Homo sapiens: one gene and its partners. The protein of the gene in region 1 interacts with the protein of each later gene in a pairwise test. Each region holds a gene or a part of one and is shown on either strand. Other genes may lie near its edges.

Region 1 (7,025 bases):
TAGTAAAAAAAATAGATAATGGTAATATTGTATGATAATTTAAAAGATATATATTACAAGTATTGTATATCTTGATATTATAATTAGCGGTTGGCTTCATTTACTACTAATTCACTATTCATAGTAAATATCATCCTTGACCATGCAAATACTAAATGCAATTTTGTATCATATAAATTTAATGCTATAGTGTATATTGATCAAAAATGTATAAGAAATGGATATTTTCTTTCTATAAGCGATAGCAGCCAGAGAAACACAGTAAGTAGCATTGTCTTATTTCTTAAGATTTAAAAGACCTATAATATCTTTAAGCCTACACAGCTCAACTTTGAGTTCCCAAATCCTAAGTGGTCCCTAATCAATATTGTAATGATATTTTTTGAACTATTTTCTACATCCAAAATAAATCTAATGAATTTTTGACAATAATGGTCATTAGACTACAAGTCTGCATAGGGTAAATACGATATCCCTTGCTTTGGGCTGCAGTTTTATCAGCTTATTAAATTAGTGCTGATTATCTCATGCTTACTGGAGGCATTTATTGATAGTATGTCTTTGAATGATAAACATAAAAATATATTTCTAATATTATTTGATACAAGAAGTTTGCTGAATAAAAATCTTTTAAAATATTCTCAAGAAAATTTATAAAATGCCTTTGGGGCAGTAAAATTGCAAAGGATCATTGCTTTTTTTTGTTCAAGTTATAATCTAATTATCAGAATGAATGACTCCATTAGACACTTCAACAACAACATAATTTAATATGCCATAGATTTTGGAGGCAGAATGCTATAATATTTGTATATTTTGGTTGAGGTATAGATACTTGACCTTCACTGTATTCATAGTTTTGTCTAGTTCATCATAATACAATGTGGACGTTTACATTTAATTTCTTTTTCTCAAAGATAACCTTTGGAGGCATCCCTTTCTCTGGCAAGCCCAGCTCCAGCAGTAGAAAGAATTTCAAAGGCTGCATGGAAAGCATCAACTACAATGGCGTCAACATTACTGATCTTGCCAGAAGGAAGAAATTAGAGCCCTCAAATGTGGTAAGGATTTTCACCCGCAAAATATTGGTCTATAAAATATCAAGTAACATTTTTGTTTTTTGGATTATTGAACAACAACAAAATCATGACATTTTTCATCATATTTGTGTTTGGGCAAAATGATGTAAAACAAACATTAGAGTTATCAGAATTAGTATAGATACTTGCTATTCTTTGAGAATAGCTAATGGGACTAGCTTGAAGTAGGTGGTTGGTTTTATTCCCACGGAGCACAGAATGTTAGACTCAATATTTCTGGATGACTCGTGGCACGTGCTTCATCCCAGCAGTTAGCAGCCCTTAAACCGGCAGCATCGTGTTTTCAAATATCTCATCACATGTGCTCTAAGTTACTTGCTTATGGTTTAATTTAATATTTTTAAAGTTTTTAAATCAGGGACTTTATTATATTTACTCCTGTGCTTCCAAAGATGATTTGTTTGAATATGTAAATAAATACACTTTTTAGCAAATCTCTAACCAGACTAAATATTACACAGTTAAATAAAGCTTGATTTCCACTGCATAGCCAAAGCTGTGCCACAGAAGTTCACAGTGATTTTTTTCTGCCTTTTGTGTGAGTTGGTGCCAGGTTTCATTAGATTTTGGAAGGAGAGCAAAAGTCAAAGAAAGCCCCAGCACACATGCTTCCAAACGACACTACTCCACATCCCTAAAAGACACTTAGTTTGCAATTTTAGTATGAGAGTTCCCTATGGCTCTGCAAGACCAGGAGCTGCTTTAGCCCAGAGAGGCTATTTGGGAGAGCTTAGAATTCCAGAGACCCATACAATAAGAAGATATTATGCACTATAAGTACAATAATGTCATGAGTGTTTGCACTGTGCTCCAAAAGAGCTCTGATGGTCTCGTTGCCTCAAATTTGAGCCCAGGGTTTCATAAAATGATTTGACAAATGGAAATCCCTGAATGAATAAACAGTTCAGGTTGAATATGGAAGGTTTAAAACAATAACTTCATGCAAATGATTATTTAATAAATAATTTTCTTAAAGTAATCATAAATTTATACTAGAAATTAAAACTTGAACTTTGGTTAAATTTTCTCATAAAGTATATTGACTATGGAAAAATAATAATAGCTCCATTTATAGGCAACAGGTATTGTGCTAGGCAAGTCGTATTTTATATTTAGGATGATCTGAGAACAATACTGCAAGAAGGATACAAACATTTTGTAGATGAAAACATTGCGATTTAACATGGAAAAAATAAGTTATTTTATGAGAAAAATAACTTTTATTTTATGAGTAGGAGATAAAAAGATAGATGTATAGCCTGGTATAGTGGGTTGCTGCTGTAATCCCAACACTGTGGGAGGCCAAGGCAGGAGGATCACTTGAGTCCAGGAGTTTGAGACCAGCCTGGGCAACATAGTGAGACCATGTCTCTACAACAAGTTAAGAAAATTAAAATTAAAAAAATAAATCAAATTGAATTAAAAAATTAGCTGGGCATAATGGTGCATGCATGTAGTCCTAGCTGCTTGAGAGGCTGAGGTAGGAGGATCACTTGAGCCCACAAGTTTGAGGCTGCAGTGAGCCATGATTGAACTACTGCATTCCAGCCTGGGCAACAGACTGAGACTCTGTCCCCCCAAAAATAAAAGAATAAAAAAAGATTATGGATTCACAATATGTGAGTTTGATTATGCTCTATAATTACATTTTATTTTAACAAATAATTGCAGTGAGAAAACATAGAATAAACTTTTGAATCAAAATATACATACATACAGAAAATCTTAGATGGGATAGAGACAAATAGGACATTTTGCAAGCAACCCTGCAAAGACAAGTGTTTATATAAGAAATGTACTTTCAAAGATGTTGGGTGCTGGTATTTCAGTGAAATTGACTGAGCACTCATTCTACCTCCTCTTCCCCCACATACTCATTCCCTCATTATGCATTGACTCCAAAGTCAGCACCGTTACTCTGGAAGGATCTTTAATTTTGCTAGGGAGACAATCCCCTCAAAAGAGGTATGTGGTCAGTTATAAAATCTCAATTATTATGCATAGGCAGTTCTTTTTATCAGTAAAAGCGAGCATTTAAAAATAATCATCTGTGATGGTACAGAGCAAATTTAATTTGAATATTAATTCAGAGAGACTGCCTGCCTTAGATTTAATGGTTATTGTGCTAAAATGGAAGAAATCAGCATCAGGTATATATATATATACACATATATATATGTGTATATATATGTGTGTATATATATGTATATATGTGTATATATACACACACATATATATACCATATACATATATATACCATATACATATACATGTACCATATACATATATATGTACCATATACATATACATATACCATACACATGTATACCATATACATATACATATACCATACACATGTATACCATATACATATACCATATACATATATATGGTGTTGTTAAAAATATATAGAGAAAAAGAGAGACAGACATAGAGATAGAACCAATGAAAATATCATCCAATTACATTCCTTAAAATATTATGATAGGATAAAAGAAGTTAGAAGCAAATACAGATTTTTAGACCTGTAAAGAGAATGTAGTTAGGCACTGAAATATACAATTTAGTGTATCTGAATGATAAATATTTTTTTCTTTTTTTTCTTTTGCTTATACCAAGGAGGAGGAGTATAGAAGGGGAGGGGAAAGCCTGAATTATTGCAAATTTTATCTCCATTTAGCCCATTTATAGTGCTAGTTATACAGGAATTAATGCATTGTGATATAAGCACAATTCATGGGAATTTAAATGGGATTTTGAGTTGGATACTAAAATAATCTCCAACAACCACAATTACATTAATGCTGAAAACTTAATATCTATCTATCTATATATGCATATACAAGGTATATAGATAAAAATCCAAATATATTTCCCTAAAATATCAGTTTCATAAATTGCAAACATATGACCATAGTCCCCACTGAGACCAGAGTAATATGTTAATTAATGTTGGCATTGACCACCCAGAATAGGACAGAGCATCTCTCTCCCTGACTTATGTTCGGCCAGCAGTAGCTTTGCTGTCTTCAGAAAGTCTAGTGATCCACAGTCACACCCACAACACACATACACACTTTACAACTCATGGTCAGCCTATCACATCAGGCTGTCTGGCTGTCAATCCCATGGTGGAAGCTGCTTGTTATAGTTAGACAGCCAACTGCTGCTCAGTAGTAGGTCTTACACTCCAAGTAGATCCGTAGTGGTGCATCCAGTCACTGAATCCATGCTCTGCTGCTGTGTGTGAGTTTAGCTTAGGCTCAGGCTGTGCTTCAAAACTTGTAGAACTATACTTTCATCAGTGGTCTGACATGGATGTTCATTTTATTCTGTGTTTTCCTCAGAGCCTGTCTTTCTATTTTACAGGGAAATTTGAGCTTTTCTTGTGTGGAACCCTATACGGTGCCTGTCTTTTTCAACGCTACAAGTTACCTGGAGGTGCCCGGACGGCTTAACCAGGACCTGTTCTCAGTCAGTTTCCAGTTTAGGACATGGAACCCCAATGGTCTCCTGGTCTTCAGTCACTTTGCGGATAATTTGGGCAATGTGGAGATTGACCTCACTGAAAGCAAAGTGGGTGTTCACATCAACATCACACAGACCAAGATGAGCCAAATCGATATTTCCTCAGGTCAGTGAAACCTATTTGACATTTGTTCCTGAAACTTATTGCAATTTCCAGAGTTAATGTTGTGCTTTGTTTGGTTTTGCTGGTGTTACACGCTCAGGATTAGGTTTTAATTCAGATCTTCAAGACGCTTACTTGGTTGTAGTGTGTGCTGATTGAATAAAGAAAACTTGGAAAGTTGTTGAGAGAGCAAGGCATGGGTGAAGGAGAAAATTGGTTGAGATTGGAAAAGCAAAATCTATTCCTTACCAATGCTAGTTTATTTTTAATAGATAAATTGCTCTTCTTTTAAGTGAATAATTTATGTTTAAAAACAAGGAATGTTTATTTTAAAAACACAATTGTATCTGGTATCTTTTCTCTTTATCAACATTCGTGTACCTTTTACTATTAGTAACAAGATTATACTAATTTTAACTTTAAGGAATATTCCACTGCTGGAATCAGAACTTCAAAATGATCTTGCTAAAATTATGCAAATGGTTGGAAAAGAAAACGAAAGTGAATATAAAGGTGGAATGACAAGATTTGTGTATCAACTGACGGAAGACTGGCTTAGGCAAAAATAGGATAATTTTAAATTTGGCTTTGTAGTGATATGACAAATAGAGGCTTAGGTAATATTCTTGTTATTTGAATAGACTTCGCAACCTTGGAAGTTCTTTGATAAATACAGTACAAAGAAAGGTGACATTGTAAATTGTGATGTTATAAGCAAAGAAAAATTAGTCTCAATATTGGACTGATAAATAGTAACTGTTTTCATCTATTTTTCTTGAGATAGTCTTTGCAATAGTCATACATATATATTGTGAAGAACTACTTAGAAATGGGAGATACAAAGAAAACTAACATTTACTGAACACTTAGTACAGATGTAGCAGATACTGAAAGGAGTCATGACAGAGAGCTCAATTGGGTGACCATGGACTCTGATTTCTGAATATGCCATATACTCTCATGGCACCCTATGCATATACCTGACACGGTTTCTAACACACTATGATTTTTGTCCCTCTCTTTTCCCCTCTAGGCTCCATGCTCCTTGACAGCAGGGACCATGCTCCTTTTTCTTCTGTCTCTGGCATATAGAATAGTACCTGTAAGAGGTGCTCTCCAATATTTGTTGAATTCAATACTCTGACCCCTTTCAACTAACAGAATATCCCCTGCTATAGAACATATATATTTTCTTGTAAAATAGGCTTTATGTTTGTGTGTGGCCTGAATGTATGGTCTATTACTGAAAAGGATTCAAGGAAGCCACAAGAAATGTTATGTCAGAGATGTGCCTAAATTATTGAAATCAAAGGTATTGGGAAATACCTAGTTATTCACTTTCTCCATTTCTGCTTTATTAGTTTTGCTTTTTCCTTGAATGTCTAGTCAAAATGATTAATCAACCATATTTTATCACTACATTCGTTTATAAGTATACCTAGGGAGGTTTACAGCAAATCGAAAATATCTGGAGAGACCAGAAAAACAGATAAAACAAAAACAAAAGCAAATGTTTGCCACAGTTGAAAAACTCCCACATTATATTGTTATGATTAATGATTATTGCCTAATGACTAAACATAAAAATATTAGTATGAAGGCCTGTCTCCTTGCAGTCTCTGAGCAAATCCGATTTGCTGGTGGGTTTCCATGTAACAGGAGCCAATATATTTGAAAGGATAAGATATTAACCCTAGTGGTCAATAAACATGTATTAATTTGATTTGGTGTAATTTAGTACTCCAAGATACTCTCACCTAATTTAAGCTGTGTTTATTTTGAAAATTAAAGATAGAATGAACAAAGAAATCCAATACATGACAGTTAATTCACCTTAATAGATTTGCTTAAACCTAATAAAAATGGACTGAAGAGTTTTTGTCAATTTAGCCAAGAATCTGTGCAAATTAATTGAAAAGATATAAAATCTAAAGATTTCCGTAGTATTACCCTTCTATAATCCAGTGAAAATACCTTACTGCTTCAAGCATTTTATATAAATATATATATATACAGACATACATACACACATACATACATAGTGGAAACTAAGTGCTCATATTTGAGAAACATTAGTTGAAAAAAAAATTCAACCATTTAAAAAAGTTATATTTTATATTCATTCATTCAATCTAAAAGTACATATGGAAACCATAGGACATAATTTCCTCTGTCTTTTAATGTATTTTATCAAATTCAATTAAATGTGTAAATAAGTTAGTAAAGTGGCAACACTGAGAAAACAGTTAAGTCAGGATTCTAATGTTTGCTTTAACAAAGGGAAATATATCTGT
Region 2 (7,064 bases), on another chromosome or scaffold:
TACCTTTCTGCTGTGGTAATTGCAGCTTAAAATATTAATTGGAAAAGGCCCGTTTTCCTTACTCTCCTGCTTTTTTGCCATATCGAGTATGTTAGAAATTGTTCTGGGAAGCCTGGAGAAGTGAGGAAACGGTGGGCGGAGCAGAGGAGAAAGAAAGGGAGTACATGCTGTGGAAAGCTGCACTGTTGCTGTAGTTTCCTTTCCCTTCACTGAGGTTTAATCACTAGTTGGAGGAAATTGGAATGTTTGAAGAAGGAGGGCCAGTGCAGGGTGGAAAAAGGAGGGGAAGACAGGAGAATTCAATAAGGCCAAGGGCAGTTTAGCAAAGCAATGCCCAGTAAATTGTACTATGGAACTCTGTAAGTGACTAGGGAGTCAGAGCCATCCAGGGCACATGACAAAATTGTCCTACTGTTTCTTTTGAAGATCTGCAGACAGGTTCTATACCAGACTGCCAGATTGGAAGCCTTCAGACTATTGTTTCTATAATTCCCTTCTTCCTAATTTTAGGGACAGAAGTGCCAGCTGGCCATTCATTTTCCAACAGCTTTCTTCATACCTCGACACCAGTCCTGATGACTCTGATCCCATACTCATGAAGCCGACCTCAAACTTACAAGCACGTTGAATCTGAGCTGAATTTATAGTTAAAGTGGCATGCTTTCACATATTTTTATAGACGCTGGAAGATGAGTACACCAGCTGGATCAGTCCTGAAAACATCAAAAGGCTGGATGATACAGGGAGGAAAAAGAGAAGGAACTCTGCTGAAAGAAATACCAAAACTCTTATTGTTCATGTGGTAGAAAAAGTAATGAATGAAGTCTTAAGACCTGGGGTCTAGCTGCAGCTTTCCCCTAACTAGTCACATGACCTTAAGCAAATTCTGTCCCTCCCTCACAGAATAATGAGTGGAATTCAACAATTCTTTCTTTTTCTTTTCTTTTTTTTTTTTTTTTTGAGACAGAGTTTTGCTCCCATTGCTGCCCAGGCTGGAGTGCAATGGTGCCATCTCGGCTTACCGCAACCACCTCCGTCTCCCAGGTTCAAGAGATTCTCCTGCCTCAGCCTCCTGAGTAGCTAGGATTACAGGCATGGGCCAGCATGCCCAGCTAATTTTGTATTTTTAGTAGACACTGGGTTTCTTCATGTTGGTCAGGCTGGTCTCGAACTCCCAACCTCCGATGATCTGCCTGCCTCGGCCTCCCAAAGTGCTGGCATTACAAGGAGTTCAATACTTTCTAAGATCCTTCAAACTTTCATATTTTCAAAACCATATATTTGTCAGCAAATACATATTAGATGTCTGCAATATGCCAAGCATTATATACCCACCTATAATAGTTTACTGCCTTTGTTTTTGAAGGACCACATTTCTCTTTGGTTACTCAATTTCCTCATGGTGAAATGCGACTAATGATGACTCTCCTGCTTATTTTAGAACACAGAGGGAAATTGTATCTGAAAGTGATTTGGAAAATCTAAAATGTTCTGCAGCAGCAGATACCTTTGACATATTCATTTGTATTGTGGGAACATATGTACAGGTTTTTCTCTTTGAGATAATAAGCAATAACCTGAAAATGCTCTGTTTTACTTGAAAATGTGTGAGATGCCTGATCCAGAGAGAAATTATCTTAATACTGTTCCAGAGTTGTGTTTGCATGTACACACAAAGCTGCTAATTAGATCACAGTAAATGCACAAAGTAACATTGTCTGCTTGAAGAATAAAGAATGTGTTCCATGAGAGCTTGCCTATTTTATTCACCATCACATTTATAATAGTAATATTTGTTGAAGGAATGAATGAGTGAAGCAATGAAAGAACGCAGATAGCAGAGATGTCTTTAGTTTTCTTTTCATTACCAATTTCAATTCTTGTGTTGTCTTCAATATTTAGGTATTTTCTTTGATACTTTTTCTTCTCCTCTGATTACCTCTAGAGGAGAGTATGTTGAAGCTCATTTTGACTCAAAATAATTTATGCTTAGGAATCAAAAGATGTTCGTGTTGCAAACACACATTCCTTAGAAATATTACTATTGTAATTGCTTCCTGAGATCATCTTTAATGTGTCCAATACATTATTCTGCTTTAGTTCTGTAGCACCTAACACAGGGTATGGCATTGAAAAAGTACTCAGTAATTCATGAATGATTTGGCCAATCCAATGGAATAACTGGTGTGAGTACCTGGGACAGAGGTGCATGACTAATAGGAGTATTGTGTAAGAAATGACACAGGGGTTCTGAAATTTTGCCACGGCATATTTAGTCATTTCCATTCAGTGTTAAGATGGTTGTCACCACACAAATAATATCTATTTGTTCACTGTAAATTTTCTCCAGGGTCCCTTCCCACCTTCAAATGCATTATTTTATTTTATTTTATTATTTTATTTTATTTTATTTTATTTTATTTTATTTTATTTTATTTTATTTTATTTTATTTTATTTTATTTTTTGAGGCGGAGTCTCGCTCTGTCGCCCAGGCTGGAGTGCGGTGGCGCAATCTCCGCTCACTGCAAACTCCGCCTCCTGGGTTCACGCCATTCTCCTGCCTCAGCTTTCTGAGTAGCTGGGACTGCAGGCGCCCAACACCATGCCCGGCTAATTTTTTGTATTTTTTGTATTTTTTTTTTTTTTTTTTTTTTTGAGTAGAGACGAGGTTTCACCGTGTTAGCCAGGATGGTCTCGATCTCCTGACCTTGTGATCCGCCTGCCTCGCCTGCCAAAGTGCTGGGATTACAGGCATGAGCCACCTCGCCCGGCCCCCACCTTCAAATGCATTAATCGGATTCCTTCAGTATTATGAAGAAAACATTATGAAGAGCCTTACCTGATGATAGTAATAACAACCGTAACCACTAAGTAGAGTCTATATTTATTAATAGCAATGTCATCTTCTCTAACAGTTGTCCAGTGTCCCAAGCCTGTCATAAGCTCTTTGAAGCTCTGTGAGAATGAGAGTTGTGTCTTATGCTCAGCACTTAAGATGGCTACTTAATTCAGATAGAAGAAGAATGTGGCTATTTGCAGGCAGAAGGCAACTTGATTCCTCACATGGTACTATATACTAAGACACCCTACACTCCCAGTTTTACACGTGGTAGTTCTAGCACGTTCCTTCATTTAAGGAGTCTCTTGAATTCCAAAATTTCCAGATTCCACCTGAATAAATGGCAGAGATGGCAACTGGACACAAAGTTATTTTACCCTGTTCCCTTCACATAAAAGGCAGGCTTGGGATCACTTAGGTTTGGGGGCATAAACATCCTCTCAGTGTCTGAGTACTAAAGAAATGATAAACTACTATCAATAGAAAAGTAACAGATCACTTAATTATCAATCAGTCTAATGGTGATTATTTTAAGACTTTTGCCACAAACTGAACTGCCCCAAAGCAAATCTCTCATGCAGTTTGGCCTTAATTTCTTTTACCCTTTTTTTTTTTTTGAGAGGTTATTATGCAGTGCTTTCCCGTTTAAAACACTGTTTCTACCAGGGAATATTAGGGGGTCTTCTGCATTACAGACTAAGCAATTCCGTCTTTTCTCAAGAAAAACTGCCATGTTACATCTGGACAAAAATGGAAACTTTAAAAAAAAACCTCACATCGTTTTATTTTCCTTTCTGTGTGTGTATTTTTTCCCACATAAGTATCTTATTATTTCCTAATCGAAGCTCATTCTTCTCTATGAGGCGCTGGCTTGGTATTTTCGCCTGACAAATCTCCCGGAGCAGATGGTCCCTTCAGGGAAGCTTCAGGAAAGTGCTGGGTGTCTAGTTATGCCTGGACCCTCCCTCCCTCTTGGGGCCCCAAATGACAAGTCATCAAACCAGTTTCTCTCCAGCAAGGGTCCTTGATCCGGTAGCAGCAGGTTTGGGTTTCAGGCACTGCAGAGACCCTTTGCAGTTGGGTTTAGCAGCTACCCAAGTCTGCAGCCTGCGCTGGTCCTGGGGGTGAGAGTGATATCCCTGTTGTCCAATCAGAGAAGCGGGTTTCCCTGTGGTCCCCGCCCCACTTTCCCTGCTGCCCCAATAACCGCCCTAAAAGGCCGGGCTTCTGCTGTCAAGTAGCCAGGGTGGGCTCCGCCGAGGCGAGGAGGGGCGCCGGTGGGGAGATGCGCTCCCAGGTGTTTGCAGCGGAAGTGGGAAACCTGTAGGGTATGGTCCAGCTGTGCCGCACCGAGGCGAGCAGGAGCAGGGAACAGGTAGGAAGCTGGACTTTTCCTTCTTTGCAGATAAAATAAAGAATGCGCATTTCCATGCTGTTGCTTCCCTTCCCCCAGCCCCGCCCAGCCCTCGTCACCCCCAAATCTCCTGTGGTCCCTGCAGCTCTCGCCGTGCGGCGCGGGAAGGACTGGGGCGGAGGTGGCTGGGGTGCGGGGAAGCAGGGGTGCGGGATGCCGGAGCCCTGGGGTGCCGGGCAAGGCAGGACGGCAGTGCCCTAGAAGAGGGCTCCGAGCTCGGGGTCTGTGTCTCGTCAACTTTCCTTTCGGAGGCTGCCGCCGCCAGCGCCGGGAACTCGCCCCAGGGATGCCATATCGCCTCGGCAGGGGAGGGGTGGGGAAGCAGAGAGGTCGGCAGCCCGGGGCCTGCAGGTCTTTTTCTCCCGACGCCGGCCCGCACCTGCTCATCTTTCCCATCCCACCTGGGCGCCTGGCTAGCGCATCCCGGAAAACCTGGGAGCGGTTGCGGAGAGGGGAGGAAGCGACTTGTTTGTCCCCTGACCCCTCTGTTAAGATCTAGCTCCCTTCAGGAGATGGGGGTGGGGAAGAATCCCTGCAACTCGAAGGGCACGTTCCGATTAATTACGTCTCCGTTGAGAAGGCACCGGCCCTTCTCCACGATCTGCGGCAGGTGGGAGGGAGAGACCGCGGAGCCACGGCCCCTTCCCTCCTAGCCTGGCGCTGTCTACGGGAACCACCTTCACACCTAGTTTCTGAAAGGTGGATTTGGCTTCAGGGATTTCCAGGGAGTCAAGTGATTGTGCCCGGATGGGCTCCGAGCGGCTGCGAGGCTGCCTCCCTAGGTGACCGCATCTGGGTAGTAGGTGTTGGCCCAGTGCCGGTTCCTGCAGGAGTCAGATTGCTGGGAGCAGTAGGCAGAAGAATTGCAGAGAGATCCGACGCTGCATCACCCTCTGGGACTGATGACACCCTGCTTTGAAAATTCCTGAAAAATTGGGATGATGGGAAAGAGGGAAAGCGGATAGCTGCGACCTTTCCTTATTTATTTATTTATTTTCATGCCAAACCGGGCATGGGTATTCGTACGTGTGCTTGTGTGTGCACATCTCCAAGGTGGAGCTATATATAGCTCCTGCATACCCAGCCCGGCTTCCCTGCTGCTGAGCCGGCTGCCTTGGCCTTCTCAAGCAATCTGGAAGCACTGAGTGGGCGGGGCAAAAGGGAATCCAATTCTCCATTGGGGGAAAAGCCGGAGAAGAAGCATTCAGACTGCTGAAACCCTGCGTGAAATAATGTTTTTGTAACTCACGTAAAGATCAATATTTCATATTTCATGTTTTCAATATGTCATATTTCATGTTTTCAATATTTCAGTATTTTGCAAACATTCTTAGAGTGCCAATATAATCTTCATCCATTTCGCCGCATTTTTCGGTTTCTAAGTGTACATATGAACCTTACCAGCCCGAAGTGTAACGCAAATCAAATTAATACATGCCGTATCTGGGATATTTTATTAGACTCGGCATAATGGTTTGGTTATTTGGTAGTAAATTTATTTCAGTGGTAACTTATGGCTAACAGCATTTGGGGATCTGGGAATGGATCCACCCACTTTCCAGGACTAAGGAACTGCTAGAACCCTTGCGGGGGTAGATGTGAGGTATTTCTTTGTACAGATTTTACATGTGGACCTGATATTTAAATTTGTACTGCTTTTTCATATCACATCTATTTGTACTATGTGAACTTTCTTTTATAGATTGATGTATGTGCATTTATCTTTGCCATTCCCTGAAATTACTTATTCCTGATGACAACCTTTCCATTTTCACAGATGAAGAAACTAAGATTCAGAAGACACAAGTGATTGGTTGAAAGTCTTCTGAAAACTTTAATATTCCAACAACCTGCCGTGTAATTATACTGCATAGCAGTTTCCCCTCAAATAGAATACTTTTTAGCTTCCCAGGATTTTTGGTCCTGGCAACAAAATGTGGTTAATGTTGATACCAGGAACAATATAAACCAAGTTTATTCGGTTCTAGTCTGACATGTATCCCTACAAAATTTAATTCTGTGTTTTAAGAACAAAATTCTAACTTGCCAAGTCATTTTGAAGATAAATTATTTAATCTACCAAGTTACCATCATAGGCAGTGCGAGCTGGCTTTTAATTTTGCTCTGCAACTTCCTGATGATCTGATTTGGAGCAAGATAATTAAACTCTGAGAATCTGTTTTCTTGTCTTCAAAAGGAATTTTATAGCATTGAAATTTCAGGTTGCTATGAGGGCCATAAAAAGCATGCATGTTTCTATCATGGGGATGGGCGCATAGTGGGTCATTAATAAACAGGGCTACTGGTAATAATAACAATACATAGGTATGTATCAACTAAATGCATTTTAAAATTCATGGTTCTAACAAAACGATCACTCCTCTTCAGAATCTCTAGTAGACTATTTTCACTTGGGAACTTAATCATACTTAGTCTTATTTTGTTGCTTAATCCTCATTTGTATGTCTGATTTGTTTTCTAATTAGGAAGTACTTTGCAGAAAAAGACTACACTTATAATCTTTTTGTATACCCCACCACATTGAACACAGTCCTATAATAAGTAGCCTTAAAGATTCTTGTTCAGGAAGCATCATCCTAAGAAGCTGGATGGGTGCAGCAATGATTTGGGGATATTTTTTTGGTAGAAGGCTATGCCTTGGGAGGAAACTTCCTCTGGCTTTATGATCCTCTCCATGAGGAGTAATGGATGACATAAGGTGTTTCTATATCTTTTCATAGAATGACTCGGTTCTACAGTAGGGATTATGACTATGTACTGGTTCTATGTATTCTCTTGTATCTTGTGTC
Region 3 (7,025 bases), on another chromosome or scaffold:
CAGGCCCAAATCACAGATAATTTTTGGTAGATCTAGAACCAGAACCCAAGTTTTCTATTTAGAATTCTTCATATCTTTCACTATTGTTTTCTCTCTTAGGCTCTACTTATCTGAAAATTTTAGTTAGAAATCAACTAGATAAGCAGCAGATTGGGAACATTGTGAATGATTCCAGTTTTTTAAACAGTTTTATTAAAGTCTAATGGATTTATAATAAACTGCACATATTTGACATTTACCATTTGATAAGTTTTATCATCTGTATATACCTGTGAAACCATCACCACAATCAAGATTAATGAATACATTCATCACCTTCTGAAAGTGTCCTCTGTACCACTCCCCACAAGTCCCCCACCCCACCCCTAATCCCTGTGCCAGACAACCACTGGTCTGCTTTTTGACACTAGAGATTGTTTTACATTTTCTAGAGTTTTATATAAATGGAATCACACAATATGTACTCTTTTTTTGGTCTGATTTCTTTCATTCAGCATAATTATTTTGAGATTTATCCATGTTGTAGCATGTATCAGTAGTTCATTCCTTTTCATTGTAGGATAGTATCCATTTTATGGATACACCACAGCTTGTTTATCCATTCACCTGTTAATCAACATTTTGATTGTTTCCAGTTTTTTGTTATTACAAATAAAGCTGCTGTAAACATTTGTGTACAACTTTTTATATGGACATATGCTTTAGTGATTCTAATTTGTTTCATTACCTTATAGCTGGAATACTACAAGCAAGGAAAAACAGAAGAGTTTGTAAAATTGTTGGAAGCAGCACGTATAGATGGCAATTTGGACTATAGAGACCATGAAAAAGACCAGATGACTTGCTTGGATACATTGGCAGCGTATTATGTACAACAGGCTCGGAAAGAAAAGAATAAGGACAATAAAAAGGATCTTATTACACAGGCCACCTTGTTGTATACAATGGCCGATAAAATTATTATGTATGATCAGGTAAAAATAAAGTCAAATTTCTTTCCATTTATGAAGGGAGAAAAGCACATGAAAGCAAAATGTGTGTGATAGCAGATTTTTTGAAAGAGTTTTTCTTCAAGTAACATGGTTGATAGAGTCAAAAAGAAGAAAGGTTCCTCATTAAAATCGGAATGCTTTGGTTTTTGTACTGTTTAAGTAATATGGACAAATGTAGTACATAAAACTTGCTCCAGTAATTTTATTATCTCCAGGTGAATTTCAAGGATATTTTAAGGAATTTAAATTTTTCTTTTGGTTGTTGTTATTGGCACAGAAGACTTACATTTCAGGATAATTTCTTATTTTGTAATTAAGAATTGCTTGTTAGTAGCTTAAGCACGTTACATTTGATAGGGGAATTTGCACTGTGCTCCACCTCCTTCCTATTTGGTTTTCACTTTAGTGTTACATGTTCATGGTATATAGGGGTAAAATCTAAGATAATACATTACTTCATAGAACCATTTGTTGGGAAGAGCCTGCTTCTGCCTACTTGAGGGTGACAAAATGGATCAAGCTGATGCACAGTTTCATTTTGTACTCAATCAGTCTCCAAATAATATTCCAGCCCTTCTTGGTAAGTGGTCTTTGGCAACATGTTAGGAAACAGTTGTTTTCAGCATATGCCTAGAATATATCTCTTGGTAATAGCTCCTTAATAACTCAGCTAGACAGCAAAGTAGAAGAGCTTTATGTTGTTACAAATGAAATTACCTACAACAAATATTGTTGAAATTGTAGAAATAAAATATATACCAGTTAAGAATAATTTATTATTTAGGCCAGGCATGGTATAATCTCAGCACTTTGAGACCCTGTCTCGTTATACCTGTAATCCCAGCGCTTTGAGAGACTGAGGCAGGAGGATCACTTGAGGCCAGGAGTTCAAGACGAGCTGGGGCAACATAGCAAGACCCCATCTCTACAAAAAATAATTTTTTCAAAAAAGAGTAATTGGTTATACACTTCTGAAGAGCCAATAAACAATCTCTACTTAGACAACTTAAAGTTATTTCAATTATTACTTTATAACATTTTTTAAACTTTTATTGAAGTTCAGTGGTACAAGTGCAGGTTTGTTACATAGGTAAACTTGGTCATGGGGGTTTGTTGTGCAGGTTATTTCATCACTTAGGTATTAAGCCTAGTACCTATTAGTTATTTTTCCTGATCCTCTTCCTCCTCCCACCCTCCACCCTCCAAAAGGCCCCAGTATGTGATGTTCCCCTCTGTGTCCATGTGTTCTCATCATTTAGCTCCCACTTATAAGTGAGAACAGGCAGTATTCAGTTTTCTGTTCCTATGTTAGTTTGCTAACTTTATAACATTTAACATAAAAATAGGAAGTTTTATTTTTAGACATAAATTAGTATACTTTTATGAAAAACAAATTTTTAATATGAAATTTTGTTCTGTGTTTTCAAGTATTTCTCACTCAGAGATGTATTTAACTTAGATAAGTTAGTGTAAAACATAATAGACTTGTAGCCTTTAATCAGACACTGTGTTTATTTTTAAAAATCATTACAGGTAAAGCTTGCATTTCCTTCAACAAGAAGGATTACAGAGGAGCTCTTGCTTACTATAAGAAAGCATTGCGTACTAACCCAGGATGTCCAGGTAAGAGAAAAATTTTATTTTATGTCTAAACTGTGTATTACCCAGCTTAAAGCATTGAGGATTTGTCAGTTGCTTATGAAGTTATGAAAAGATATTGTTGGATTATAGAAATGTCAGAATCAAGTTTTTTTTTTGATGCTATGTTTGAGTCAAAAGCTGGATAGTAAGGCCAGGTGCAATGGCTCATGCCAATAATCCCAGCACTTTGGTAGGCAGAGGCAGGACTACTTGAGCCCAGGAGTTTGAGACCAGCCTGGGCAACGTAGTAAGACCCTGTCTCTACAAAAAATAAAAAAGTTACATGAGCATGGTGGCACACACCTGTGGTCCCAGCTCCTTAGGAGGCTCAGGCTGGAGGATCGCTTGAGTCTGGGAGGTTGAGGCTGCAGTGAGCCATCATTGTGCCATTGCATTCCAGCCTGGGCAACAGAACAAGACCTTGTCTCAAGGGGAAAAAAAAATAGATAGGGTCTGGCTGCACTGGTTCACACCTGTAATCTCAGCACTTTGGGAGGGTGAGGTAGAAGGATTGCTTGAGCCCAGGAATTTGAGACTAGCCTTTGCAACAAAGGGAGACCCCCATCTCTACAGAAAATCAGCCGCACATGGTAGTGCTTGTGGTCGCACCTACACAAGAGGCTAGGCAGGAAGATCACTTGAGCCTAGGCATTTGAGGCTGCAGTGAGCCATGTTCATGCCACGGCACTCCAGCCTGGGCAACAGAGCCAAGACCCTGTCTCAAGAAAAAAAAAGTCTGGATAGTAGATTATAATATAATCTTTTTGCCCTATACTATTTTTCTTTCCAAAATGTCATTCATGTAGCAAATTTTTACTGAGTACCAACTATGTGGCAGGCAGTGTTCTAAACCCTGAGAATGTAGCAATTAACCAAAGAGACAAAAGTTCCTGCCCTCATGGAGTCCAGTTTTCAGTGGGCAAGATAAATAGTAAAGTATGTATGATGTGTAAGCTACCAGTAAGAGCCAAGGAGAAGAATAAAGCAGAAAAAGGGTATGAGAAGCATCAGGAATTGCTTAGAAAGGATGACCAAGGAAACTCATCAGAGATAGTGACATTTGTGTGAAGACCTAAAAAACAACTAGCAGCCATGCAGATATATAGGAGAAGACCACTCCTAGAGAGAGAGCATAGAAGGTACAAAGGTCCAGAGGAAAGAGAGTGCCTGGTAAGTTTAAGGAAGAGTAAGGAGGCCATTGTTTCTGGAATAGAGAGAGAAAGAGTTGGGGGGAAAGTAGTAAGAAATGGGGTCAAAGCTATAACCAGGGACTGACTAATCACGTAGGGCATCACAGATTATTGTAAGGACTTTAGTTTTTACATCGACAGAGATGGGAAGCCATTGGAGGGCCTTGGGCAGCAGAGTGACGTGATCTGACCTATATTTAAAAGGTTCGTTTGAGCTTTGGGGTTGAGACTAGAGTGGGGCTCAAGGGGAGGGGGTCAAGGACAGAAGTAGGGAGAGCAGGGAGAAGGCATCTGCAGACAGGCAGGTCAGAGGTGATTGTGGCTCACACTAGGGAGGTAATAGTGGAGTTGGTACAAGTGGTCAGATTCTACATGTATTTTGAAAGGAGAGCTGATGGAGTACCTATGATGTATAAGACAGAGAGGAAGAGTCAAAGATAACTCCCTTGCACAAGCAATTGGAAAAGTAGAGTTATATTTTACTATATTTGGGAAATAGTTTAAGTGGAACTAGTTTTAGACCTGAAAAGTTTGAAATACCTTTTAGACATATAAGTTGTCAAATTAAGCAGTTCAGCCTTAAAGCTTTTAGAGCTTTATCCTGAGCCTTGAGAAGAATGTGGCTATACAACCTGAGTCACGTGGCATGCAGTTGCAATTTCTGCCTTTTTTTTTCTGTAAACAATTAAGATCAAATGGTGCCAGAAATAAGATCCCCCTCACATGGAGCAATAAAATAATCTTTTTAGAATATAGCAATTTGTAACCAATCAAATTGCTGTGACATAGGCACCTGGTGTTATATTTTAGAATGTTACAATCCTACTAGAACTTCTCTATTTCCCCCAAATAATTAAAACCTTAACTTTTTCACTTTGGAAAATGCTGATATCATTCATTTGGAGTCAGTACTTTTCTGGTGGCCATTCTTACACCTTGCACTCCAATACACTCTATACTTAATCATATTTTCCAAATCCCGTTATTTAAAATTGACAAAGTGAAGACAGCAGAAAGGCTGGAATTCAGGAAAGAGGTCTGGGCTGAAGTCATCAACATATAGATAGTGTATAAAGCTGTGAATGAGTGCAAATAGAAAAGAGGTCTAGAGGTGGAGCCCTAGAGCACTCTGATATTAAGAGATTAGGGAAATGAGGAAGAATCAGCAAAGGAGACTGAGAAGATAATAGCCAGAGGTATAGGAGGAAAATAGGGTAAGTGCATTGTCTTTAAAGGCAAATGTAAAATGTTTCCAGAAGAAGATGATGACCAACAGTGTCAAATTCTGTTGTTAGGTCAAGTAAAATAGGGACACAGAATTGATCATTGGATTTAGCACCATACAAATCCATAGTGACCTTGATAAAAGCAGTTTTACTGGAATGGTGGGGTGAGAGCTTCACTGGAGTGTATTCAAGAGAAAATGGAAGGAAGGGAATTAGACATAGCAAGCGTAGCTAGATCATTCTGGGAGTTTTGCTATTGAAGAACAGACATGATCGACAACTGGAAAGGGATATAGAATCAAGAGAGGATTTGTATAAGATGGCAGAACGTTTATGTGTAGATGAGAATGAATGATCCAGTAGAGAGAAAAAATAGGGGAGGGTTGCTGGAGCAGTATTCTTAAATAGATAAGAGGGCATCTAGTGACCAGTATGGTGATTGGCTTTAGATGGGAACTTGTTTGTGTTTTGGCATGGCCTTAAATGAGGTAGCACATATGAGCATAGCTTTGAAAGGAACAATGGTATGTGCCCATAATCAGTCATATTATTTAAGGTCTTAGTGGAACTTTTGTTCTCTGTTTAAAAATTGTTCTTCAATAATGAGAAATTGAAGGTATGGTTAGCAGCGATGTTAGAAGACAAGAAGAATACCAGTATTATAGGTGTTCTGTTCTATAGTGAGAAATGTGTCAGTGATAGAGGAGAGGGTTGGAATATGGTATGATGTAGCCTCCAAGGAAACCAAGTTTGTGATAGGTCAAAAGATTCTGTAGTGTAGTTATACTGAGGTTAATTTTGGGGATTTTGCAACTCATAAATAGAGAATGTTTAAGCATTTTTGTAATTGAACTCTAAAAAATGCCCTAGTTTGATAGATTGAATGACTTCATTTTATAGCGGAAGTTCGTTTAGGAATGGGTCATTGCTTTGTGAAACTTAACAAACTGGAAAAAGCTCGTCTGGCATTCAGCAGAGCCCTGGAACTCAATTCCAAATGCGTGGGAGCATTGGTTGGACTGGCTGTTCTAGAACTCAACAATAAAGAGGTATGTAAATGAAAAAAGTATCTAGCTCCTAACTGCTTTGTCAGGCCCACAGCCTCTTATCTAAAACTCTTGGAGCCAGATGTGTCTTAGAAATTAAGATTACAGATTACAGAAGGGTACCTGTACTTTGTAATGTATAACACCTAGTTATTGGGGCACTACCCCAAAAGCAAACTTATATTTCTGTGGCAAAATGATAGACTGTTTACACTAGTAGGATAGGGTTACAATTCAGGTAGTATTGCCACCAAATAAGTTTGCTCCAAGATTACCAAAAAAAAAAAAACAGAAAACAAAACTTGTTTTTTAAGGCATTTAGATTTCAGAATCTCAGATAAGGGGTCGTAGACTTGTATATCAGTTTGGAATGCTTTCATTGCACGTAACAAAAAACACATCCCAGTGCCTTAAACATAAGGGCTTTTAGTGTTTACTAAACCAGTTGTCAAAGGTCTCAAATTTGATAGGTCCTTGTCGTCAAACCTATGATTTTATATAATTCCGTCCTCCCTTCCTTAATGTGCAGCCTTTCTTCATCATGTCTGTCACCTTATAGTCACAAGATGGCTGCAGCATCTCCAGCTTCTCATTATTACATCGGTCTTATAAAGAGGGAGGAAAGAGAAAGGATAAAAAGGCTTTCTCTTAGAGAAGCCCTGTCTTATATTGAGAAGGAAGCTCTCCATCATGCTTCCCCTTATGTATAATTGTCCAAAACAGGGATACCTGGGTTTCTCAGCCTCAGTACTATTGATGTTTTGGGCTGGATAATTCTTTGTTGTGGGGAACTGTCCCTTCCATTATAGAATGTTTTAACAGCATCCCGGGCCTCTACCCACTAAATGCCGATAGCGTTCCTCCAATTGTGATAACCAAACATGACTTCATCCCCAGTTGAGAACCACTACCTTAGGCCAGAGGAAAAGA

What was found.
Region 2: the proteins of CNTNAP2 (region 1) and CNTN1 interact in binary tests that used the Homo sapiens proteins (3 or more experiments, as listed by UniProt).
Region 3: the proteins of CNTNAP2 (region 1) and CTR9 interact in a two-hybrid assay, tested with the Homo sapiens proteins (one study listed by BioGRID and IntAct).

The regions. Positions count from the first base shown.
Region 1 is NC_000007.14:147,127,776-147,134,800, forward strand, and holds part of CNTNAP2 (contactin-associated protein-like 2 precursor), read left to right. Parts: intron 1-917; coding exon 918-1,061; intron 1,062-4,469; coding exon 4,470-4,734; intron 4,735-7,025. UniProt on the Homo sapiens protein: Required for gap junction formation. Required, with CNTNAP1, for radial and longitudinal organization of myelinated axons.
Region 2 is NC_000012.12:40,688,378-40,695,441, forward strand, and holds the start of CNTN1 (contactin-1 isoform 1 precursor), read left to right. Parts: upstream 1-4,061; 5' UTR 4,062-4,215; intron 4,216-7,064. UniProt on the Homo sapiens protein: Contactins mediate cell surface interactions during nervous system development.
Region 3 is NC_000011.10:10,754,224-10,761,248, forward strand, and holds part of CTR9 (RNA polymerase-associated protein CTR9 homolog), read left to right. Parts: intron 1-734; coding exon 735-974; intron 975-1,454; coding exon 1,455-1,572; intron 1,573-2,525; coding exon 2,526-2,615; intron 2,616-5,949; coding exon 5,950-6,098; intron 6,099-7,025. UniProt on the Homo sapiens protein: Component of the PAF1 complex (PAF1C) which has multiple functions during transcription by RNA polymerase II and is implicated in regulation of development and maintenance of embryonic stem cell pluripotency.